3 separate regions of the Homo sapiens genome follow, and all the other regions are linked to region 2. Evidence: fine-mapped expression QTL. A gene starts in region 2. Each other region holds a variant in brackets. All regions are shown on one strand. Distances are between the middles of the regions. Region 1 overlaps FXN (frataxin). Region 2 holds the start of FXN (frataxin). Region 3 holds the start of PRKACG (protein kinase cAMP-activated catalytic subunit gamma).

Region 1 (8,179 bases), 33 kb after region 2:
GAGAGAATGCTTCATCTTATAGAAAGAACAGTGTCTTTGGACCCACAGAGACCTGGATTTAAGATTAGCTCTGCCAATTACTGAGTACTCTTTACTATGAACCTCTGTTTTCCTCATCTGTGAAACTGGAATAATGAATCCTACCGCCAACAATTGTAGTCAAGTTGGAAACAATTTACACAAAGTGCCAAACACCAAGCCTGGCACAGTAGGAACCGAGTAAATAGTGGTTAATATTTTTATCAGTGTCTGCATTGCTGACGTCTCCATCATTTCTATACATTTGTTTTTGAATCAGAAAAAGATGTTATTTTAAAAAAATAACCCAGTAGTGCCCCTTGTCCCATTCCTATCAGTTATATTATTATTGTTACTACCCTCTGGAATTTCAATAACTCTTTGTTTTTTGGGTTTTTTGTTTTGTTTTGCTTTGCTTTTGAGACAGGATCTCTGTCGCCCAGTCTGGTGTGTAGTGGTGTGATCTCAGCTCACTGCAGCCTCAACCTCCTGGGCTCAGGTGATCCTCCCACTTCAGCCTCCCAAGTAGCTGGGACCACAGGCGCATGCCACCACACTTGGCTAATTTTTGCATTTTTAGTAGAGACAGGGTTTTGCCATATTGCCTAGGCCGGTCTGGAACTTCTGGGCTCAAGCCATCTGCCTGCCTCGGCCTCCCAAAGTGCTGGAATTTCAGGCATGAGCCATGCCTGGCCTAAATAGCTCTCTGTGTTTGCAAAAGTGTGTTATAAGAATCATTCAGAGCCTCTCGATTGGATGGAGGCTCTAGAATGCACAGAAAAAGGCTGCCACCGTGTATCTCTGCAAGTCATGCACAAGATGGGGAACAGCAGGCTTCCCCCTGCTTACCAGTTCAAATACAGAGAACTAGCCCTGTAGCTGTTTCTTTCATATCTCACCCATTCTAAAGAGACCACAGGCCTTAGAAGTAAAGGACTCTTTTGTTGAAAGAGTGTTTTCAAATTTAAATGAGCATTTATTGGTCAAAGATGCACCAACTAGTCTTTTGAAGAATTCAAGGCTCTTTAGAGAAAAATAAAGCCTTGGAGGAGTATCTGAGAAGCTTGTTAGATGCGTGGGAAGAGTCTGGAAATAAAAAACTTCATCTGGAGTTTCTGCCTTCTACCAACAGAGCTGAAGCTAATGCTCTCCTAAGACAAGCAAAGCAGATGGTTTGCATACTTCCTTACCTTCCTTTTACTTCCTCTGTAATAGACTTGTCATGTCTGATGTTTGAGTTGACGTGGTACTCTAATAGAGTTAGAGTCTGCATTTTTTTTATGTCCTCTAGTATGTTCTGGTTGATGGTTGAGGGCAACAAACCAGCAGTCCCAGATGCCAGCACCAAGACCTGAGACAGGTCACTTAACTCTCCGAGCTTCACCACCATTCTCACCTTGCAGACCTCACAGGGAACAGGGAAAGCTCTATGAGATACAACATCATTATGATTAATCCTATTCTGATTCTGAAAGCAAAGCTCTTCCTACACAAACTCCTATTTCTAAATACTAAAAGACATTTCTTTATGGTGTATTTTGTGTACTTGTAGAAATGGAAAGTGTTGAGATAAAACATGAAGCAATGATGACAAAGTGCTAACTTTTTCTTGTTTTAATTTCTTTATGCTTTTTTTCCACCTAATCCCCTAGAGTGGTGTCTTAACTGTCAAACTGGGTGGAGATCTAGGAACCTATGTGATCAACAAGCAGACGCCAAACAAGCAAATCTGGCTATCTTCTCCATCCAGGTATGTAGGTATGTTCAGAAGTCAACATATGTAATTCTTAAAGACTTCCGAAATGTGACATTGTGGACCATTTAAGAAATGTCGGCTGAGCACAGTGGCTGACACCTGTAATCCCAACACTTTGAGAGGCTGAGGTAGGAGGATCACTTGAGGACAGGAGTTCAGAACCATCCTGGGCAACATAGTGAGTCCCTGTCTCTGTAAAGAAAATAAAAATAAAGTCACAGCTGGGTGCAGGCTTACACCTGTAATCCCAGCACTTTGGGAGGCCAAGGCCTGTGGATCACTTGAGCTCAGGAGTTTGAGACCAGCCTGGGCAATGTCACAAAGCCCCACCTCTACTAAAAATATAAAAATTAGCCAGGTGTGGTGGCACACGCCTATAGTCCCAACTACTTGGAAGGCTGAGGTTGAGCCTCAGCCTGAGCCCAGGAGGTGGAGGTTGCAGTGAGCCAAGATCGCGCCACTGCACTCCAGCCTGGGCAACAGGGCCAGACCCTGTCCCAAAAAAAAAAAAAAAGTCATCGTCTTATGTTAGCATCCTTGTAAGTGAGCCTTTCCTGATATTTTGCAGCCTGTCTCATTCTCAGTAGAAAAGTTTACTCTAGTTACATAACTTCTCCCTGCTGACAATTTGGATACTGTAAGCAGGCATCAGGATATTAAGATCTGAAGTGAGTAGCTTATAACTTTTCCAAATCCAGCCTAGACAGTTTTCCTCTATTAAATTATTGCCCTGACTTTAAAAGAAGCTACTTTTGACCTTGTAGCGTTTGAACAAGTTGCACTTTGTCTTCAAAGCAAGTTAAAGTTTGACCTCTACTTGTTTTGAGCCTCTCAGGTAAAGGGTTATTTGAATTCCCTTTGCAGGTTGGGGTTGTGTACCCTGTGGAGGTGGTAGAGTGTTATATATTGCTGCTCCAGGGCATTTAATCCCTCCTGCCTTTTCCATTGATGTGCTTTCAATCTAGAGGAATAAAAGATTGTGTTGGAGACACAATGTGGCCTGCATAGCATCTGAAAGCCTGAGAACATGCAGGGAGAGACATCCCTCATCCCTCAGCAGCCTGGCTGCTGTTGAAGTGGTTGTAAGAAAGTAAAAGAGAAATGCCCACAAAACGTTCTCAGATCCAGTCATTCATTAGCACTTCCAAAGAGAGCATGTTGACTGTGAATTGGGAAAGGGCCAGATAAAACTAGCATAGAATTCTTTGAAAGACTAACGGTATTTGCATTTTTTAAAAATTATAACCTTACTCTACCCCCTAACATTGACATCATTTTTAGGTAATTAATATTTTCCCATTTATTATTCTGTGATCTCTAATGCTTTGTTCAGAATAAATAGTGTGTTTCCTTTCCCCACACTTTCATCCAAGAAGTGTGCTAGAGTTCAACAAAAACAGCACTAGAAATCACTGTCATTCTAGGAAGGCCCTAATTCACAGATTGTATTGGTTTTTAGACCCAGTTAGTGTGCTGGAGGTTGGAGGATTTTAACCTCTGTGGGCCAACTAGCCTCTGTGGCCTCAGTCATTCTTCCTGACCCTGGCTGTGCTTGAGCCTGTGTGTTCTTATCCTTCATCTCCGGGGGAACGAAGTGGATCAGCTCGGTCCAGCGATCACTTTTGGGGATCAGTGGCTTTGTAGATATCGGGCAGGCACTTACCCCAAAAGAACTTTCCCCATATCTGAAGACTGAAAACGTCCATATCGTATTTGGACACACTGCCCAGCAATACGCTCTAGCTGTGTTCAGAAGCATGGGAATTTGGAAAGATCTGCTGAGCATGCCGTTTACTGTCACAGATACTATCTTCCTCAAAAAAAAAAAATATATATATATATATGGGGGACGGGGCAGGTTGAGACTGGGTGAGACTGAAGAGGTGCCTTGGCCAGAGCAGGCCACACCCAGAGACCACAGGCTCCCCGGTCCACCTCAGGCCCCTCCCCTTCCTGCGCCGTTTCCGGCAGATCCAGAGTGGCCACCGCCGGATGGGAGTCGGGGGAAGGGAGGCAGAGAAGCGGGCCCTGAGGACAAGCTCTCAGTGCTTCTGTGGGAAGTGGCGGCAAGACGGCAGCTCCCAGCGGGGGATGGAGGCCGAGTCAGTCTGCTGGTCACTGGAGGCCAGGATGCTGCCTAACACAGCCGTCCCGCTCCGGGCCTCACCACCAGGGCGGCTCTCCCCACTCCCGGCCTGCTGCCCACACAGACTGCGGGGTTCCGGGGGAGCAGGACCCAGGCCGTTCTGCGCCTGTCTTCTTGGAAGGAGCAGGCCGGAGCGCGGGAGCGCCGTGTAGCTGTACCTGCGAAGGCACAGGATTCCGCGGGAAGATCCCGCAGTTTCGGGCCGTCGTCATTGTTTTTATACCTGTGGCAAATGGCATGACCAGACACACGGTTATGTCTGGAGAAACCCCTGTAGAGGAGCAGGAGGTTGTGGACATGCTGTGGCCCGGACAGTGGCTGCCGAGCAGTTGGAGCCTGCACCCGCCCAACTTGGCTAAAGAAGTCCCCATACTCTCTGTGGAAAAGATTTCCAGAAGCTGTTGTGTCAATATCAAAGCCTCA[A/AAAC]AACAACAACAACAACAACAAAAACATGAAATTATCAACAATAAAGATCATCCTTGAGTCTGCTTTGAAAAGTAGGGTGAAATTCTGCAGAGGCATTCAACTGGCAAGATACCACCCTCATAGCCAGATCTGCAGGTCTCAGCCATCATGCCAGGGAAAATGCTCCATTCACCACTCCTCAGCTTCTGCTTCTGGTTTCAGAGGTCTCTGTATTGGAGGGGCTTTAAAGCAAGAAGGGTCTTTACCCACTTACTCTTATTCACAGATGTGAATATGCAGGTCCAGTGGGGAAAGTGACATGTCCTAAGTCAGAATAGAGTCAACAAGAAAACAGGGCCCAAAATGACTTAGCCTCTAGTGTATAATGGGCATTGATGAGCTACTGGAAATACAGAGATGAAGAAAACACAGTCCCATCTTCAAGGAGCTCAATCTAGCAAGGGAGACAGACTCTTTGTAGGTGGGACCGGGCTTCCCTGCAGCAGAAGGAAGCTTGAAATTGGTAACGAGCCTCAGAAGGGACAGAGGCAGGCCACCATGCTACCCTGAGAGGATCGCATGTGGACACGGGGCTATGACCTGGCCCTGCTTTGACCCACTAGCTGTGCTGTAGGGCCAGGTGGAGCCTGGAGTGGCCTGTGCTAAGGGGCTACTATGAGCTCTTTCCACTCCCCCAAGGCATTGCATAAATAATGTCACTTTCTGTTTGCACAGCAAAATCAGGGACACAATTTTCTAGAACATGGGGTGCCTCCCCTCCCCCCAGCCCAACAGAAGTTCTACAATGACTGATGGGCCCTTGTTTTTGTTTGAGACGGAACACCCCACAGGGTTCCGAGTGGTGATTTGTGGCCCACAGGCCACTGGCAAGTGGAGGCAGAGCTGCAGAGCCCTCGGGAGCCACAGAGGGCCTGCTGGCCGCCACGACATGCCAACTCAGCTGCTGCTGGCCCTCCTGTGGGCGGCAGTGCTAGTGATGTGCAGAATCTTAGGACTAGTGCCAAGGAACCTATAAATACCCTGGGTGACCCAGGCGTGCACTGCTGTGGTGGCCTTCACAGTCAGAAGATGACAAGCTGAGAAGGGGAGAATCGGCCCAAGGTGAGATCCACAGAAAGGCCAGGGCCAAGATGCGGCCAGCACCTCAGGCTGGTGGTGGTCTTACGTTGACCATGCCAGAGGCCAGTCCTTGATTGCTCCAAACCCTCTGTTCGAGGGTTCCAAATGAAATGAGCAGGTCCTCGTGTCAGGACCTAGGTTAGTTTCTGAAAAAGCATGAAAAGCAGGCCTCCTGAACTTCCCCGAGTGACTGATGCAAAGTGCGTCCTGCATGCTTCACAGCACCATGGAGAGGATCTTCAGGGGCAAACTGCAGACTATCTGAATGACGGCACTGACCATCAGCAAACCGCAGAGCTGCCTGACCAAGAAATTGCGAGACAGAAGCAATGCTTGCAGGCGAAGAAGAAGGGGCCAGACACAGTGGCTCACGCCTGTAATCCCAGCACTTTGGGAGGCCAAGGCAGGCGGATCACTTGAGGTCAGGAGTTTGAGACCAGCCTGGGCAACATAGTGAAACCCTGTCTCTACTAAAAATACAAAAAATTCGCCAGGCATGGTGGCAGGCACCTGTAATCCCAGCTGCTTGGGAGACTGAGACAGGAGAATTGCTTGAACCCAGGAGGCGAAGGTTGTAACGAACTGAAATCGTGCCACAGCACTCCATCCTGGGCGACAGAGTGAGACTGTCTCAAAAAAAGGAGGAGAAGAAGGAAAGGCCAAGGCAGGAATGAAACAGGCCATGAATGTTGGAGTGAAGCAACTGGCCTCCTCGTGCTAAGCGGCTACTGTGAGTTCTTTCCACTCCCCCAAGACATTGCATAAATAATGTCACTTTCTGACACTCACCCCGCTGAATGTCCTGCCTCTGCTCAAGGGTGGTATGATGGGGACTTGGCAGTGGAGGGGAACAGGGAAACCAGACATGGTGGTCTCCCCGCTTCCTGGCTACAAGTCCCTCTGAAGAAATCCAAAGGAGTAAAGAGCTTGGAGAGTAGGCCTCTGTAGGGTGCAAGGGCACAGCTGGAGACGGAGCTCCTGAGGCTGCAGCTGATGCTGCCCGCTCTGCCTGAACTGCACCAAAAACGTGATGAGGCCATAGCGGGAGTCCACGGAGGAGGATGCCTACTGCCCGACCTCTAGCAGAGACTAAGCAAGGTGCATGAAAACTTGAACCACATGTGTCACACCCATGACCACTACATGAAGATGGCCCAAAACCTGGCCCAGGAATTGAAGAAAGACTCTTCCAATTTGCTGTAAGAAAATGGCCCAGGGGGCAAGCACGGTAGCTCACACCTGTAATCCTAGCACTTTGGGAAGCTGACGCAGGCAGATGGCTTGAGCTCAGGAGTTCCAGACCAGCCTGGGCAACATGGTGAAACCCCGTCTCTACCAAAAATACAAAAATTAGCCGGGTGTGGTGATGCATGCCTGTGGTCCCAGCTACTCAGGAGGCTGAGGTGGAAGGATTGCCTGAGTCTGTGGGGCAGAGGTTGCAGTGAGCTGAGATCACACCACTGCACTCCAGCCTGGGTGACACAGTGAGACCCCATCTCAAAAAAAAAAAAAAGAAAGAAAACGGCCCAGGAAGGCTGGAGGGCCGCCGTGTCCATTGAGAGAGTGCTCCAGGCACTCCAAAAAGAAAATGACCACAATGGGAAGAAACCAGCTGACCATGAGACCAAGTTCCAACCTTTTACAAGTGGCCTGTGGCTCCTGGCGCCCCGCCCACAGCTGACAGGGGCTCAGAAGTGCTAGGGGGACCATGGGCCACCAGGGCCACCAGGAGGGAGGCAGGTAACGATGCGAGGGCTTGGATGCAGAACACCAGCTGGTTTGATTCTGTTTTCCCTGTACCTGGGTCCTGAATGCCCAGAGGCTCAGGGAAACACCAGCCAGTGCTGCTGCCTTTAAAGCACTTTTGACTGATCTCTTGTTAATTTAGCAACTGTTATTGGTTGATGCTGCAGTTGCTCTTATTGAAGTTTGATTGATAGCATTAGGATGGTAAGGCACTATTTTTCAAATAAAGGTTGTTTAATATAAAAAAAATTTTGTTTTTTTTTCTCTCAGCCTTTCACATTGGTTCAAAATATCTTTCATCTGGCTGCATTTCTGATTTTTGTTTTGTTTTTTTTTTCTTAATTTTATTTATTTTTAATTAAAAATAATTTTTTTTGTCAACATGGGGTCTCACTTTGTTGCCTAGGTTGGTCTGAAACTCGTGGCTTCAAGCAATCCTCCCACATCAGCCTCCCAAAGTGCTGGGGTTATGGGTGTGAGCCACTGCAGCAGCCTGTTTTTTTTGTTTGTTTGTTTTTTTTAATTTGACAAGTTTTCAGGTCCTGTGAAATCAGCAGTCTTACCTCCCACCTTGCGCACCCTGAGGAGGTTGCAGAATAAAGGAGAATTCTAGGGACACGTGGGCATCAGTGCCTGTGCTCAGAGCACCTCAGGCAGTGTGGAGGGGTCTAGAGGTTACTCAGGCTCTGCCTGGCAACCCGATAGCAGTATCAGAGTATAGGGCCAAGGGGACGGTCCTTGGGCTTGGTGTGGTTTATTAGTCCTTTTCCTGTGACCCTGATGGTTTGGTTCACTCATTTTTATCTCCATACTGGGAACAGGTTCAAGCCCCAGCATTTGGTTGATAATGCAGGAATCCTTGATACTTTTATTGCCCAAGCTTCCCTTCCTGGTGACCTCATCCTAGCCTCAGTCTTTGGAAAAGCCCTCCTTGAGTGCTCAGGCAGACTCAGGTGCCCTTTCTTCTGGGC
Region 2 (8,179 bases):
ATTATCTACATCATTCACATGTTTAATATTTATTGACTTTGGAATTATTGATTACTTTGCTGAGTATCTTATGAATTTAATCTATATTAATATTAAGGTGATGTATCAAATTGCATTCCAGAGTGTGGATTTGACTCTAGTGCCATAATCAGTCTCCTGGGACAAACAGCTGTTTCTCTTCCCTCATTATAGAAAAAAATTGCCCTTGGCAAATGTCAAAGAACATCCTTTTATCAATCTCTCTTACCAATCAATCCAAGCAAATGCAGTGGGATTTCTTTTCCCCAGAGTTGAAGTCACCTCCTGACAGGAAGTTAAGTCTTTAGGCACTGAATCATAGCACTGAGCTGAAGCCCAGGACTAAGCAAGAATGAGTGAGAATTTGGAGACTTAAGGTTTGGTCATCTGTAGAGGATTGGGTTTTGTCTTGTTTTGTTTTTGTTTTGGTGTCCTGCAAGGTTTCTCACTGCCCTTCATCAGGTAATATGCCCTGTCCCTGAACTGGCCAATTGTGTTACCCCATTCCCTTAGCAACAGTGATTGCTACTGAAGAAACAGGAGGCCAACAAAGAATATCACTCATTCACCAGTAGAGTGTCTATGTCAGAGATATTAGATAAACAGGAAAACTAACAATTACATTGCAGGCTGTGGAAACAGAGAGAGGTACCTAAGGCACACCTGTGGGAATATGAAAGTTTGGTTTCATAAAAGGATTCTGGAGGAAGTCACCTCTGACATTTGAGTTGAGTCCTACAGGATATGAAGAAAGTAGCCCCATGTTCCGGTTACTATGGCTGTGTAATAAATTACCTAAAACATACTGGATTAAAGCTATGAAAACATCTTTTCTGCCCAGAGATTCTGTGGGCCTGAAATTCACATGGAACACATAAGGCATACCTTGTTTCTGCTCCATGATGTCTAAGGATTCAGCTGGAAGACTGGGAGGCTGGGGGCTGGAATTTATCTGAAGAATGACTCATTTACATGTCTACTGGTTGACCCTGGCTGTTGGCTGAGGGGGCCTCAGCTCTCTCTACATTGTTTCTCTACTTTGGCTAGTTTGGATTTCCTCAAAACATGATGGCTGGTCCTCAGTGTCAGCATCCCAAAAAGAGAATGCCGGACACAGTGGCTCACACCTGTAACCTCAGCAATTTGGGAGGCTGAGGTGGGAGGTTGCTTGAGTTCAGGAGTTCAAGACCAGCCTGGGCAACATAGTGAGACTCTGTCTCTACCAAAAATTTTTAAAATTTTAAAAATCAGCCAGGTGTGGTTATGCACACCTATAGTCCCAGTTACTTAGGAGGCTGAGGCAGGAGGATCACTTGATTCCAGGAGGTCAAGGCTGCTGTGAGCTATGACCACACCACTGCATTTCAGCCTGGGTAACAGAATGAGACTCTGTTTCAAACAAACAAAAACCCAAAAAAAAAAAAAAGAGAGAGAGAGGGAGTTAGAAGGAAGATGCATCATTTTTATGACCTGGACTTGGAAGTCACCAAGCAGCACTTCTGCAGTACCCTGTTGGTTGGAATAGTTGTAGCCCAAACCCGAATTCGAAGGGAGGAGAATAGATAACATCCCTGGGTGACAGGAATGTCAAAGTCCCAAACAGCATATGACATGTGACAAATATTGGTGTGGCCTTCTTTGGAAGATCCAATCTTCCATACCAGGCAAAGGGATGGAAGACTAAGGAACAACATGAGGGATAGCCAGAGAGGGAAAAAGCATCACTTGTTCTAGGAACTACAAATAGCTTGAAGAAGCAAAGATGTCTAGATGCCTCCCAATATGCAGAGTGGGGTGTACAGAAGAGAGTGGTAAGGGCGCTGGGAGAGCTAAGGTGGGCAAGAGAGCTTCCTCTGTCATGCTAAGAAAGTTGGAATTTATCTTGATGGTGGTGAAAGCAGAGGGCTATGGTTAGATTCACATTTGAGATTTAGATTTTTAGATTTAAAATGATCACCCTGGTGACACTGGCTTAACTCACAATTTTGCCCAAGGCCTATGCTACCACAGTGCTTCTGAAACTTTAAAGCACATTAGAATCACCTGGAGGTCTTGTTAAACCATGGATTGCTGGGCCTTGAAACCCCAGAGATTCTGATTCAGTAGATCGAGAATAGGGCCTGAGAATTTGTATTTCTAACAAGTTTCCAGGTGATGCTGAGGCTGCTGGCCCAGCGACCACATTTGATAATCATAGCCCTCTGATAAATCCTATCAAAATATCCTAATGGCAGAGCAAGGGAATTCTGGTGATATCCTCCCCTACCCATAACCTGACAGCTATTAGGATCTGCCTACTTGAGGCTAAAAGCAACCAAGAGAGGAACAGCTACAGTGTACCACAGAGTCCCTCAACATCTTTGCCCACGCCACGGTGCCCCAGCTTCTTACCAAGTGTGCCTGATTCCTCTTGACTACCTCCAAGGAAGTGGAGAAAGACAAGTTCTTGCGAAGCCTTCGTCTTCTCTGATATGCTATTCTATGTCTATTTCTTTGGCCAAAAAGATGGGGCAATGATATCAACTTTGCAGGGAGCTGGAGCATTTGCTAGTGACCTTTCTATGCCAGAACTTGCTAAGCATGCTAGCTAATAATGATGTAGCACAGGGTGCGGTGGCTCACGCCTGTAATCTCAGCACTTTGGGCGGCCGAGGCGGGCGGATCACCTGAGGTCAGGAGTTCGAGACCAGCCTGGCCAACATGATGAAACCCCATCTCTACTAAAAATACAAAAATTAGCCAGGCGTGGTGGTGGGCACCTGCAATCCCAGCTACTCTGGAGGCTGAGACAGAATCTCTTGAACCCAGGAGGTGGAGATTGCAGTGAGCAGAGATGGCACCACTGCATTCCAGCCTGGGCAACAAAGCAAGACTCTGTCTCAAATAATAATAATAATAATAACTAATGATGCAGCTTTCTCTCTCTGAGTATATAATGCAGTTCTGATGATGTGAGGAAGGGCCTCACTGTTGGTGTGGCAGAGTCTGAGACCATGGCTGGCAATGAAAACACTACCCTTTGATGCCTATGGGCTCTCCCTTTATGGTTTCAAGGAGGGCTTCTCAATCTTGGCAGAATTTTGGACTGGATAGTTCTTTGTTGCACAGGTGGGGGGCTGTCCTGCACATCACAGGATGTTTCATCCCTGGCCTCTACCTACTAGATGCCAGTAGAACATACCCACCCCACAGCTGCCTGTTGTGACAATCAAAAGCATCTCCAGATACTTTGCAGGGGGAAAATGATTTCTCCAGGCCTGGCATATACATAACAGTATTTAAGCAGCTGCCTAGAATTAATTAAACACAGAAGGATGTCTCTCATCCAGAATGCCCTGGACCACCTCTTTGATAGGCAATCAGATCCCACCTCCTCCACCCTATTTTTGAAGGCCCTGTGCCAACACCACTTCTTCCATGAATACTTCCTTGATTCCCCCATCCCTAGCTCTATATAAATCTCCCACTCAACACTCACACCTGTTAGTTTACATTCCTCTTGACACTTGTCATTTAGCATCCTAAGTATGTAAACATGTCTCTCTTCACGATTCACAAAGTGGCTTTGGAAGAACTTTAGTACCTTCCCATCTTCTCTGCCATGGAAAGTGTACACAACTGACATTTTCTTTTTTTTTAAGACAGTATCTTGCTATGATGGCCGGGCTGGAATGCTGTGGCTATTCACAGGCACAATCATAGCTCACTGCAGCCTTGAGCTCCCAGGCTCAAGTGATCCTCCCGCCTCAGCCTCCTGAGTAGCTGAGATCACAGGCATGCACTACCACACTCGGCTCACATTTGACATCCTCTAAAGCATATATAAAATGTGAAGAAAACTTTCACAATTTGCATCCCTTTGTAATATGTAACAGAAATAAAATTCTCTTTTAAAATCTATCAACAATAGGCAAGGCACGGTGGCTCACGCCTGTCGTCTCAGCACTTTGTGAGGCCCAGGCGGGCAGATCGTTTGAGCCTAGAAGTTCAAGACCACCCTGGGCAACATAGCGAAACCCCCTTTCTACAAAAAATACAAAAACTAGCTGGGTGTGGTGGTGCACACCTGTAGTCCCAGCTACTTGGAAGGCTGAAATGGGAAGACTGCTTGAGCCCGGGAGGGAGAAGTTGCAGTAAGCCAGGACCACACCACTGCACTCCAGCCTGGGCAACAGAGTGAGACTCTGTCTCAAACAAACAAATAAATGAGGCGGGTGGATCACGAGGTCAGTAGATCGAGACCATCCTGGCTAACACGGTGAAACCCGTCTCTACTAAAAAAAAAAAAAAATACAAAAAATTAGCCAGGCATGGTGGCGGGCGCCTGTAGTCCCAGTTACTCGGGAGGCTGAGGCAGGAGAATGGCGTGAAACCGGGAGGCAGAGCTTGCAGTGAGCCGAGATCGCACCACTGCCCTCCAGCCTGGGCGACAGAGCGAGACTCCGTCTCAATCAATCAATCAATCAATAAAATCTATTAACAATATTTATTGTGCACTTAACAGGAACATGCCCTGTCCAAAAAAAACTTTACAGGGCTTAACTCATTTTATCCTTACCACAATCCTATGAAGTAGGAACTTTTATAAAACGCATTTTATAAACAAGGCACAGAGAGGTTAATTAACTTGCCCTCTGGTCACACAGCTAGGAAGTGGGCAGAGTACAGATTTACACAAGGCATCCGTCTCCTGGCCCCACATACCCAACTGCTGTAAACCCATACCGGCGGCCAAGCAGCCTCAATTTGTGCATGCACCCACTTCCCAGCAAGACAGCAGCTCCCAAGTTCCTCCTGTTTAGAATTTTAGAAGCGGCGGGCCACCAGGCTGCAGTCTCCCTTGGGTCAGGGGTCCTGGTTGCACTCCGTGCTTTGCACAAAGCAGGCTCTCCATTTTTGTTAAATGCACGAATAGTGCTAAGCTGGGAAGTTCTTCCTGAGGTCTAACCTCTAGCTGCTCCCCCACAGAAGAGTGCCTGCGGCCAGTGGCCACCAGGGGTCGCCGCAGCACCCAGCGCTGGAGGGCGGAGCGGGCGGCAGACCCGGAGCAGCATGTGGACTCTCGGGCGCCGCGCAGTAGCCGGCCTCCTGGCGTCACCCAGCCCAGCCCAGGCCCAGACCCTCACCCGGGTCCCGCGGCCGGCAGAGTTGGCCCCACTCTGCGGCCGCCGTGGCCTGCGCACCGACATCGATGCGACCTGCACGCCCCGCCGCGCAGTAAGTATCCGCGCCGGGAACAGCCGCGGGCCGCACGCCGCGGGCCGCACGCCGCACGCCTGCGCAGGGAGGCGCCGCGCACGCCGGGGTCGCTCCGGGTACGCGCGCTGGACTAGCTCACCCCGCTCCTTCTCAGGGCGGCCCGGCGGAAGCGGCCTTGCAACTCCCTTCTCTGGTTCTCCCGGTTGCATTTACACTGGCTTCTGCTTTCCGAAGGAAAAGGGGACATTTTGTCCTGCGGTGCGACTGCGGGTCAAGGCACGGGCGAAGGCAGGGCAGGCTGGTGGAGGGGACCGGTTCCGAGGGGTGTGCGGCTGTCTCCATGCTTGTCACTTCTCTGCGATAACTTGTTTCAGTAATATTAATAGATGGTATCTGCTAGTATATACATACACATAATGTGTGTGTCTGTGTGTATCTGTATATAGCGTGTGTGTTGTGTGTGTGTGTTTGCGCGCACGGGCGCGCGCACACCTAATATTTTCAAGGCTGGATTTTTTTGAACGAAATGCTTTCCTGGAACGAGGTGAAACTTTCAGAGCTGCAGAATAGCTAGAGCAGCAGGGGCCCTGGCTTTTGGAAACTGACCCGACCTTTATTCCAGATTCTGCCCCACTCCGCAGAGCTGTGTGACCTTGGGGGATTCCCCTAACCTCTCTGAGACGTGGCTTTGTTTTCTGTAGGGAGAAGATAAAGGTGACGCCCATTTTGCGGACCTGGTGTGAGGATTAAATGGGAATAACATAGATAAAGTCTTCAGAACTTCAAATTAGTTCCCCTTTCTTCCTTTGGGGGGTACAAAGAAATATCTGACCCAGTTACGCCACGGCTTGAAAGGAGGAAACCCAAAGAATGGCTGTGGGGATGAGGAAGATTCCTCAAGGGGAGGACATGGTATTTAATGAGGGTCTTGAAGATGCCAAGGAAGTGGTAGAGGGTGTTTCACGAGGAGGGAACCGTCTGGGCAAAGGCCAGGAAGGCGGAAGGGGATCCCTTCAGAGTGGCTGGTACGCCGCATGTATTAGGGGAGATGAAAGAGGCAGGCCACGTCCAAGCCATATTTGTGTTGCTCTCCGGAGTTTGTACTTTAGGCTTGAACTTCCCACACGTGTTATTTGGCCCACATTGTGTTTGAAGAAACTTTGGGATTGGTTGCCAGTGCTTAAAAGTTAGGACTTAGAAAATGGATTTCCTGGCAGGACGCGGTGGCTCATGCCCATAATCTCAGCACTTTGGGAGGCCTAGGAAGGTGGATCACCTGAGGTCCGGAGTTCAAGACTAACCTGGCCAACATGGTGAAACCCAGTATCTACTAAAAAATACAAAAAAAAAAAAAAAAGAAGAAGAAGAAGAAGAAAATAAAGAAAAGTTAGCCGGGCGTGGTGTCGCGCGCCTGTAATCCCAGCTACTCCAGAGGCTGCGGCAGGAGAATCGCTTGAGCCCGGGAGGCAGAGGTTGCATTAAGCCAAGATCGCCCAATGCACTCCGGCCTGGGCGACAGAGCAAGACTCCGTCTCAAAAAATAATAATAATAAATAAAAATAAAAAATAAAATGGATTTCCCAGCATCTCTGGAAAAATAGGCAAGTGTGGCCATGATGGTCCTTAGATCTCCTCTAGGAAAGCAGACATTTATTACTTGGCTTCTGTGCACTATCTGAGCTGCCACGTATTGGGCTTCCACCCCTGCCTGTGTGGACAGCATGGGTTGTCAGCAGAGTTGTGTTTTGTTTTGTTTTTTTGAGACAGAGTTTCCCTCTTGTTGCCCAGGCTGGAGTGCAGTGGCTCAGTCTCAGCTCACTGCAACCTCTGCCTCCTGGGTTCAAGTGATTCTCCTGCCTCAGCCTCCCGAGTAGCTGGGATTATCGGCTAATTTTGTATTTTTAGTAGAGACAGATTTCTCCATGTTGGTCAGGCTGGTCTCGAACTCCCAACCTCAGGTGATCCGCCCACCTCGCCCTCCCAAAGTGCTGGAATTACAGGCGTGAGCCACCGCGTCTGGCCATCAGCAGAGTTTTTAATTTAGGAGAATGACAAGAGGTGGTACAGTTTTTTAGATGGTACCTGGTGGCTGTTAAGGGCTATTGACTGACAAACACACCCAACTTGGCGCTGCCGCCCAGGAGGTGGACACTGGGTTTCTGGATAGATGGTTAGCAACCTCTGTCACCAGCTGGGCCTCTTTTTTTCTATACTGAATTAATCACATTTGTTTAACCTGTCTGTTCCATAGTTCCCTTGCACATCTTGGGTATTTGAGGAGTTGGGTGGGTGGCAGTGGCAACTGGGGCCACCATCCTGTTTAATTATTTTAAAGCCCTGACTGTCCTGGATTGACCCTAAGCTCCCCCTGGTCTCCAAAATTCATCAGAAACTGAGTTCACTTGAAGGCCTCTTCCCCACCCTTTTCTCCACCCCTTGCATCTACTTCTAAAGCAGCTGTTCAACAGAAACAGAATGGGAGCCACACACATAATTCTACATTTTCTAGTTAAAAAGAAAAAAAAATCATTTTCAACAATATATTTATTCAACCTAGTACATACAAAATATTATCATTCCAACATGTAATCAGTATTTTAAAAATCAGTAATGAGACCAGGCACGGTGGCTCACGACTGTAATCCCAGGACTTTGGGAGGCCGAGGCGAGTGGATCATCTGAGATCAGGAGTTCAAGACCAGCCTGGCCAACATGGTGAAACCCCATCTCTACTAAAAACTAGCTCAGCATGGTGGTGGGTGCCTGTAGTCCCAGCTACTCGGGAGGCTGAGGCATGAGAATCACTTGAGCCCAGGAGGCAGAGGTTGCAGTGAGCCAAGATTTTGGGGGATTCTGTGACATACAAAAAAAATCAGTAATAAGATATCTTGCATACTCTTTTCGTACTCATATACTTCCAGCATATCTCAATTCACAATTTCTAAGTAAATGCTCTATCTGT
Region 3 (8,179 bases), 20 kb before region 2:
AAATGTTAAGAACCTTTATTTTAAGACCTAACTCAAAAGCCGTTTCAATACCATGAGGCTGTGATCCTCAAAACTCTATCCCCACTTGAATCACCCGTGGCCTGCCTGTGTTGTCTCACCTGTCTCAAAAAACCTCAACATTTTCAACCGTTTTTTAATGACTGAGGTATAACTTACATATGCTAGAGTGCACAGCTATGAATTGTATAGTCCAGTGAATTTTTACATATGTGTAGACCCATGTGCCCAGCACCTAAAGCGCATAGAAAACATTTGCAGCTAACCTACTGGCTTTTTTTTTTTTTTTTTTTTTGAGACAGAGTCTCGCTCTGTCGCCCAGGCTGGAGTGCGGTGGTGCAGTCTCAGCTCACTGCAACCTCTGCATCCCGGGTTTAAGCAATTCCCCTGCCTCAGCCTCCCGAGTAGCTGGGATTACAGGCAGCTGCCACCATGCCTGGCTAATTTTTTGTGTTTTTAATAGAGACAGGGTTTCACCATGTTGGCCAGGCTGGTCTTGAACTCCTGACCTCGTAATCCGCCCGCCTTGGCCTCCCAAAGTGCTGGGATTACAGGCGTGAGCCACCGTGCCTGGCCACCTGCTGGCTCTTTCATGTCCCCTCTCCACCAATGCCATCCTCAAAGGTCACTATTATGACTTCCAGCATCATAGATTAGTTTTGCCAGTTCTTTTTTAACAAAACTTTATTGGTAATAGTTGGTTTTTTGTTTTGTTGTATTGAGACAGAGTCTCACTCTGTCACCCAGGCTGGAGTGCAGTGATGCGATCTCGGCTCACTGCAACCTCTGCCTCCCAGGTTCAAGCGATTCTCCTGCCTCAGTCTCCCAAGTAGCTGGGATTACAGGTGCATGCCACTACGCCCAGCTATTTTTGTATTTTTTAGTAGAGACGAGGTTTTGCAATGTTAGCCAGGCTGTTCTCAAACTCCTGACATCAAGTGATCCACTTGCCTTGGCCTCCCAAAGTGCTGGGATTACAGCACCCGGCCTTATTGGTAATAGTTTTGACATATGTTTACAACAGCACACTGTTCAAGAGGAAATCTCATCTTTTCACAGCAAGCAGGTTGAATCACCCTGAGCCCACCTGGGGACCCACCCCAGGCCTGAGAGCTCCTCCTGGGATGGGGAGAAGTGATGAGAGGGGGAAATATGAAGATGAATGAGGTGGCTTGCCAGCAGCTCCTCACTTTTCTATTAAGAAAGAAAACAGACCAGGGACGGTGGCTCACTCCTATAATCCCAGCACTTTGGGAGGCCAAGGCAGCTGGATCACCTGAGGTCAGGAGTTCAAGGCCAGCCTGGCCAATGTGGCAAAACCTCGTCTCTACTAAAAATACAATAATTAGCCGGGGATGGTAGTGGGCCCCTGTAATCCCAGCTACTCGGGAGGCTGAGGCAGGAGAGTCGCTTGAACCCGGGAGGCGGAGGTTGCAGTGAGCTGAGATTGTACCACTGCACTCCAGCCTGGGTGACAGAGTGAGACTTCATGTCAAAAAAAAAAAAAAATTGAAAACAGCACGGGGTGGCAGGGGAGAAGAGGTGAAGGATGGCTGACAGCTAAGCTGGAGAGGGGCACCCAGGATGGGAGAAGGCAGAAGCTGCTGGGTGAATAAAACAGGCAGCCCCTCCCCAGCAACCCTAGCCTTGAACCCTGGGCGATGAGGTGGGGGTGGAGGGGCTGGGCCTCTTCCATGTCCTTTTGCAGGACTGCCTTCCCATAAGGAGAGGCTGGGCATCACAATCTGGCTGAGAATAAAATTAAGGAGTTTCGGGGAAATGCTGCTGTGAAGAAAGACTTGGGCTTGGAACTCCCACTCTGTCTTTTTGGGGGACAACTCCTCTTTGGCAGGGAGTAGGGCAGCTGCTTTTCTGGCTCCCAAAGCCCAAGGGTGAAGAAAAGTCTGCTGGGGAAGAAGAGAGTGGAGCTTCCTAAAAGAACTGAGACCTTTGCAAGAGTGATAGAGGATGCCCCTGGGGAGGGGGGAGGGGGAAATCAGCAGTTCATGGGGGAAGTTCAAACCCCAGAGCCTCCTTCCAAAGTCAGTCGGCTTCCTGGATTTGTTAAAATGGAATGGGGAGACACGGTAAGGTGGGAAGGGTGGGAGGGGTGGAAGTAGAGGAAGGAGGAAAGGGGACACTGGTGGAACTTAAATAAGATTTTAATTGTTTTTTGTTTTAATTTTTTATTCTAGCAAACAGCCCACTGAACATGGCACTAAACCTCTCTCCTTCCCAGGCAGGATTACGCCAAAGGGTAGGTGTGCTTTTCATTCATCCTCTCTTAGTAAGTGGTGCCTGTTCAGGGCTGGAGTTAAGTTTGAGCCCCTCTTTCCACACCGTGTCCCTTGATACAACAGCAAGACCTGGCCTGAATAGAGCTGAGAAACTCGTTTAAAACAGGCAGAAGGGGGCTGGGGCAAGGGGGACCCTGTGGGAGGAGAAAGAGAGAAGCACAGAGGGACCAGGAAGGCATGGGGGGGGGTGAGGGAGCAGCTGGTGTTTCTGTTCCTCCAAATATCTGGGCTTCCTGCTCCCCCAACCCTGGAGGGTGGGGTGAGGATGAAATTAGATACAAGGAACTCTGGGGCCCTCTGGCTGTTCAATCCAACCCTCCCATCCCCCAAACCACCAAAAACAAAAAGGAAAGAAAACCCACAGGGGCACAAGCACACCCCTAAAACTCAGAAAACTCCTTGGCACACTTCTCATTGATGGAGATCCGGAGCTCTTCCTCCTCGTAGTCGTCAAAGTTACTGGCATCCCCAGGGCCTGTGTACTTCGGGATGAAGGGAGCTTCCACCTTCTTCTCATAGATGGCGATCCAGCTGGTTGTGGCGAACCACTTGTGGTTCTTGATGTCGCCAACCCCGTTCCTGAGGTTTCCGAAGCGCTTGGTGAGGTCCACCTGCAGCAGGCTCCGCAGCAGATGCTTGAGGTCAGAGCTGAGTTTGGAGGGAAACCGCACCCTCCCAGAGACGATCTTCTCGTAGATCTGGATGGGCTGGTCGGCGTAGAAGGGTGGGAAGCCCACGGCCATCTCATAGATGAGCACCCCTAGGGCCCACCAGTCCACGGCCTTGTTGTAGCCTTTGCTCAGGATGATCTCGGGGGCCAGGTACTCTGGGGTCCCGCACAAGGTCCAAGTGCGGCCCTTCACGCGCTTGGCGAAACCGAAGTCCGTCACCTGCAGGTAGCCCTGCTGGTCGATGAGGAGATTCTCGGGCTTCAGGTCGCGGTGGATGAGGTCGAGCGAGTGTAGGTACTGGACGGCCAGGACGACCTGGGCGGCATAGAAACAGGCATGGGGCTCGCTAAACCTTCCGACGCGCTGTAGGCGGGAGAACATCTCCCCACCCGGCACGTACTCCATCACCAGGTACAGGTAGGAGTTGTCCTTAAAGGAGAACTGGAGCTTGACGAGGAACGGAAAGTCGATCGCCTGCAGGATGCGCTTCTCGTTCAGTATGTGCTCGACCTGCTTCATCTTCACCACCTTCTGCTTGTTGAGGATCTTCATGGCGTAGTGGCCGCCGGTCTCCTGGTGCCTCACCAGCATCACCCGCCCGAAGGAGCCCATGCCCAGCGTCCTGAGCCGTTCGAACTGATCCGAGCTGGCGGTGTTTTGAGCGGGGTTTCCCCATCTGTAGAGGAAATCTCCTCTGGCTTTGGCTAGGAACTCGTTCACGCTCTCCTCCTGCTCGGTGTCCTTCTTGGCGGGGGCGTTGCCCATGGCGGTGGCGGCGGCAGGGGCGGGGGTCTCGCGGCGGCGGCGGCGGCGGCGGCAGCGGCGGAGATGGCGCCCCCTGGGGCTGGCTGCGCTGGCTGCGGCGCTGCGACCCCCGCCCGGCCTCCGCTTATATTCCCAGCTACATGGGAGGCTGAGATGGGAGGATTTCTTGAGCCTGGGAGGTCAAGGCTTCAGTGAGCCAAGATCACGCCGCTGCACTCAACAATATGGATAAATCCAAAAGGCATTATGCAAGTGAGAGAAGCCAACTCTAAAGGAGACTTACTGTATGAATCCATTTCTATGACATTCCAGAAAAGGCAAAACTATAGTGTGAGAGAACAGATCAGTGATTGCCAGGGCTTGGGGTTAGGGGACGGTTGGACTATGAAGGGACAGCCTGAGGGAATGTGGGAAGTGGTGGGACATGTTTGTATCCTGATTGTGCTGGTGGTTACAATGTATTGGGTGGTGGTCTACATTTGTTTTAAAACTCATAGAACTGGCCGGGCGCAGTGGCTAAAGCCTGTAATCCCAACACTTTGGGAGGCCGAGGCGGGCGGATCACAAGGTCAGGAGTTCGAAACCAGCCTGACCACCATAGTGAAACCCCGTCTCTACTAAAAATACAAAAAAATTAGCCAGGCGTGGTGGCGCATGCCTGTAATCCCAGCTACTCGGGAGGCTGAGGCAGGAGAATTGCTTGAACCTGGGAGGCAGAGGTTGCAGTGAGCAGAGATCGTGCCACTGCACACCAGCCTGGGCAATAAGAGTGAAACTCCATCTCAAAAACAAACAAACAAACAAACAAACACCTCAAAGAACTGTATACTTCCCCCCAAAATTCAGTTTTACTGCATGTAATGTTTTATTTTAACACATACATATGATTTCCTTTCTTCTGTTTG[C/T]TTTGGGTTTAATTGCTCTTATTTCCTAAGGTGGGAACTAAGGTCACTGATTTGAAATCTTTCTTCTATTACAATCACTTAGTGCTATAAATTTCCTCCTAAGTATTATTTTTTGCAGCATCCCACAAATTTTGGTATGTTGTATTTTCCTTTTCATCCAGCTCAAAATATTTTCTAAGCTCCCTTTTCATCTTCTTTGACAGATAAGCTATTTAAAAGTATATTATTTCGTTTCCAAATACTTGGGGATTTTTCAAGAATTTTCCTATTGATTTCTGATTTAATTCCATTGTTAGAAAACATACTCTGTGTGACCTAAAATGTTTTACACTTCTTGGGGCTCATTTTATGGCCCAGAATATGATCTATCTTGGTAGATGGCCCATATGCACTTGAGAAGAATGTATATTCTGGTGTATTCTGCTGTTTGAGGATACAGTGTTCTACAAATGTCACTTAGGTCAAGTTGGCTAGTAGTAGTGTTCAGGTCTTCTATATTCTTATTGACTTTCTGTTTACTTATTCTATCAATTATTAAAAACATGCCACAGGAGTTTATGAGAAGTCAAAGTACATAGATGATGGGCCTTCCATCACTCCCCCAGGCCACCATGTCAGCCGCCCCACACACCCTCCAGAAGACTGCCAGCACTCAGCCATCACAGGGTGGGTTCTGAGCTGCTCTCCCCAGTCAATTCTGTACAAAGATTCTGTCCTACATCATAAACACTGAGCTACAGGAATACCCATTTATCCTCCTATTTTCTCTCCATCTTGCCCTTTAAGTTTGACAGCTAATTCTGCCTACCCACCCTGGCTACACCGCCTGTAGCTAGTGCAAGTAAACAACACACTTTCACCTAGCCCTGCAGGCTGAAACCAAGCAAATTGGAGAGGAATCCCTGATTACTTGACTCCAAGTAGAAGGTTTCTATTGTGACTGTGAATTCTTGCCGCTCAGTTCAGCAGATGTTGGTCAAGCAGGTGTCTATTGTGTGCAAGGCCTGGTTCCGAGTTTACGGTTTAATCTGGGGCCAGTACTTGGGTACTGACTGTATATTCAGAGACGGTCAGGTTAGAGAGGAAGAAGAGGAAAGGAGAAAAATCTACTGTTGATCATCTGAACTTCCACAAAAGGGAAACCCACATTCCCTCAAGAACATAGCAGGGGGGTCAATTGCCCCTTGTGCTTTGGGTCAAGGCAAATCCCTGGCAGATGGAAATTCCACGTCTCCCCCATAATCTCAGTGATTTCCTCTTCATTTTCATCACAGTAGATCTGCTAAAATTCTGCCCATTTCTGACTTACCTCCAGATTATTCAGTAGAAATTTATACACAAAGAGCAATTAGTGGGAAGCCATTCTCTTGGACCGACGCCTTGGAAGTGGGACAGTTTGTTTAGAAGCAGGCTGTGCCATTCCATGACAAATTCTTGTGGCATTAATCTCTGAAGTTCAATTAGGAAGACACAGGGGTCTAGAGGGAACATATGCTGCACACTAGAAATGTCCCCATGCTTCGTTTACAGGTCAGAACATCAAGTATTTATCCCAGAACAAGCTGCAGAATAATTACATTTGTTATTTCTCTCCACTTTCCGTTCTGCTTTTCTCCATGGCCTTGGGGAGCAAGGGAGTCCTTAGCATGCCAAGGAAACAGGAATCCTTTTGCATTCAGATAAACCCTTTCAGAAGGAAAAGATTTGTGTAGCAAGATACAATACCTCTGCATGATCTGCTTGGAGCTTGCCTAGGGGGCCAAATGAAGAGGTGAAAGCCAACTCTGCTTTCCTGTATGCCCAATGAAAGGCAATCAAGACCATTCTTCTCCCAAAAAACTGCTCACTGGCAGTCATGCCAGCTGATTCTCCTCTTTACTGTTTATATAGCAGTTTCCAAATGGCTAATTGCATAAGGCTTGGATCATTCAATTCTAACTTCCTCTCTATCTCCAAAATATTGATGGGAGCAAAGAAAAGAACAAACTCCACCAGGATTCAAATAAGAAATAAACTACAAATCTCTATCACTCAGGGAATTATTTACATAACACTGCATGTTCTGGTCCAGAAATACTTATCATACCTGGATTTTGACAAGCCAGCTTCTATTAATAGTTTGTTTTCTCCTTATTAGCAGAATATTGTAAAAGAACATTTTTGAACACAAAGTTTCTATGTCAGATTTATGATCTATAAAATGCTGATTTAAAAATTGGCGTGGCCTTTGTTATATGAAAGATGAAAAATTATGGGAGTCAGGAAGTTCAGAAATAACTTAATGACAATAATTTATAAAGTACTACATTTATTTAAAGTTTGGGCAATCATTCATCCCTTGGTACCACTAATTTTGCCACAATTTTTTTTTTCTTTTTTTTTGAGACCGAGTTTTGCTCTTGTTGCCCGGGCTAGAATGCAATGGCACGATCTCGGCTCACCGCAACCTCCACCTCCCGGGTTCAAGCAATTCTCCTGCCTCAGCCTCCCGAGTAGCTGGGATTACAGGCATGTGCCACCATGCCCAGCTAATTTTGTATTTTTAGTAGAGACGGGGTTTCTCCATGTTGGCCAGGCTGGTCTCGAACTCGCGGCCTCAGGTGATCTGCCTGCCTCGGCCTCCCAAAGTGCTAGGATTACAGGCGTGAGCCACCGTGCCCGGCCACCATAATATTTATAGAAGTGGCTTGACACACATGATAATGAGCATTGTAATGTTTTTGGGACCTGAAAAGAAAGTAGTCCTAGAAATAGGCCCAACTTGCTTACCTAAAAATATATCTTCTGACATATAAGAACTGCCAAAAGTGATTACCCCTAGGGAATAGCACTAGGAACTTAGAGAAGCATAAATTAAAGGAAGGAAAATTTTTACTTCTCACTTTATAAGCTTCTGAATTGCTAAAATTAATTTTGAGCATGAATTACTTTACTTATTAAAATAAAAATGAGGTAAAACATTGGTTTCTCACAAATGCATTTACTTATATTTTATATGTCACTTTTATATACTGTTTAAATCCACAAAAGGGAGACAATTTTTATAAAATTATTTTCCCCATATTTTGTAGTTCTCCTTCGTTTCCTGGCAATAGCACTCTGTTTTATCTTTGAGGGATTACTTCTACCTCATTTCATCTGATTCTGTTGGGTTCCCAATCTAACCCACTCACCTGAGTCAAAGTCAGGGATGGCCACAGGACCCAAGATAGATCGATCAGTTTATGTCTCTCAGGAATTGAATCTTGAGCAGAGACACAGGGGGATTTGAGGCATTTGTAAAGGAGCCATCCAAATACAGCATCTTAGAAGGCTGTCCATGTTTCTACAGCTGTTGGCCAATAAGTTCCTTGCCTTCTGTCCTGAGCCCTGGTTTTTCAGTTCTTCCTTTATGTGTCTTTCCACATAAAGGAAGCAAAGCTTTTTTTTTAAGCAAAGCAAATGGGACAAGGCGGGGGTGGGGAAGAGAAAGAAAGAAACAAATTTATTGAAGACAATAATGAATTCAGGATTGAACACATTG

Evidence for each region. PIP is the estimated chance that this variant, and not a neighbour inherited with it, causes the effect.
Region 1: its variant is fine-mapped to the expression of FXN in whole blood (TOPMed, PIP 0.96).
Region 3: its variant is fine-mapped to the expression of FXN in nucleus accumbens (GTEx, PIP 0.93).

The regions. Positions count from the first base shown.
Region 1 is chr9:69,063,268-69,071,446 of GRCh38, forward strand. FXN (frataxin) reads left to right here. Exons shown (of 5, transcript NM_000144.5): 4 at 1,671-1,768. Among named protein-coding and RNA genes, the nearest start is that of FXN, 32 kb to the left of the region's middle. RefSeq lists enhancers at 3,338-3,937, 5,188-5,687. The variant A/AAAC (reference allele first, on the strand shown) is at 4,344.
Region 2 is chr9:69,030,713-69,038,891 of GRCh38, forward strand. It overlaps FXN (frataxin), which reads left to right and starts at 5,040. Exons shown (of 5, transcript NM_000144.5): 1 at 5,040-5,235. The coding sequence starts at 5,071. RefSeq lists silencers at 4,929-5,398, 5,981-6,275 and an enhancer at 5,559-5,608.
Region 3 is chr9:69,010,342-69,018,520 of GRCh38, forward strand. It overlaps PRKACG (protein kinase cAMP-activated catalytic subunit gamma), which reads right to left and starts at 3,772. Exons shown (of 1, transcript NM_002732.4): 1 at 2,163-3,772. The coding sequence starts at 3,751. The coding sequence ends at 2,696. The variant C/T (reference allele first, on the strand shown) is at 4,657.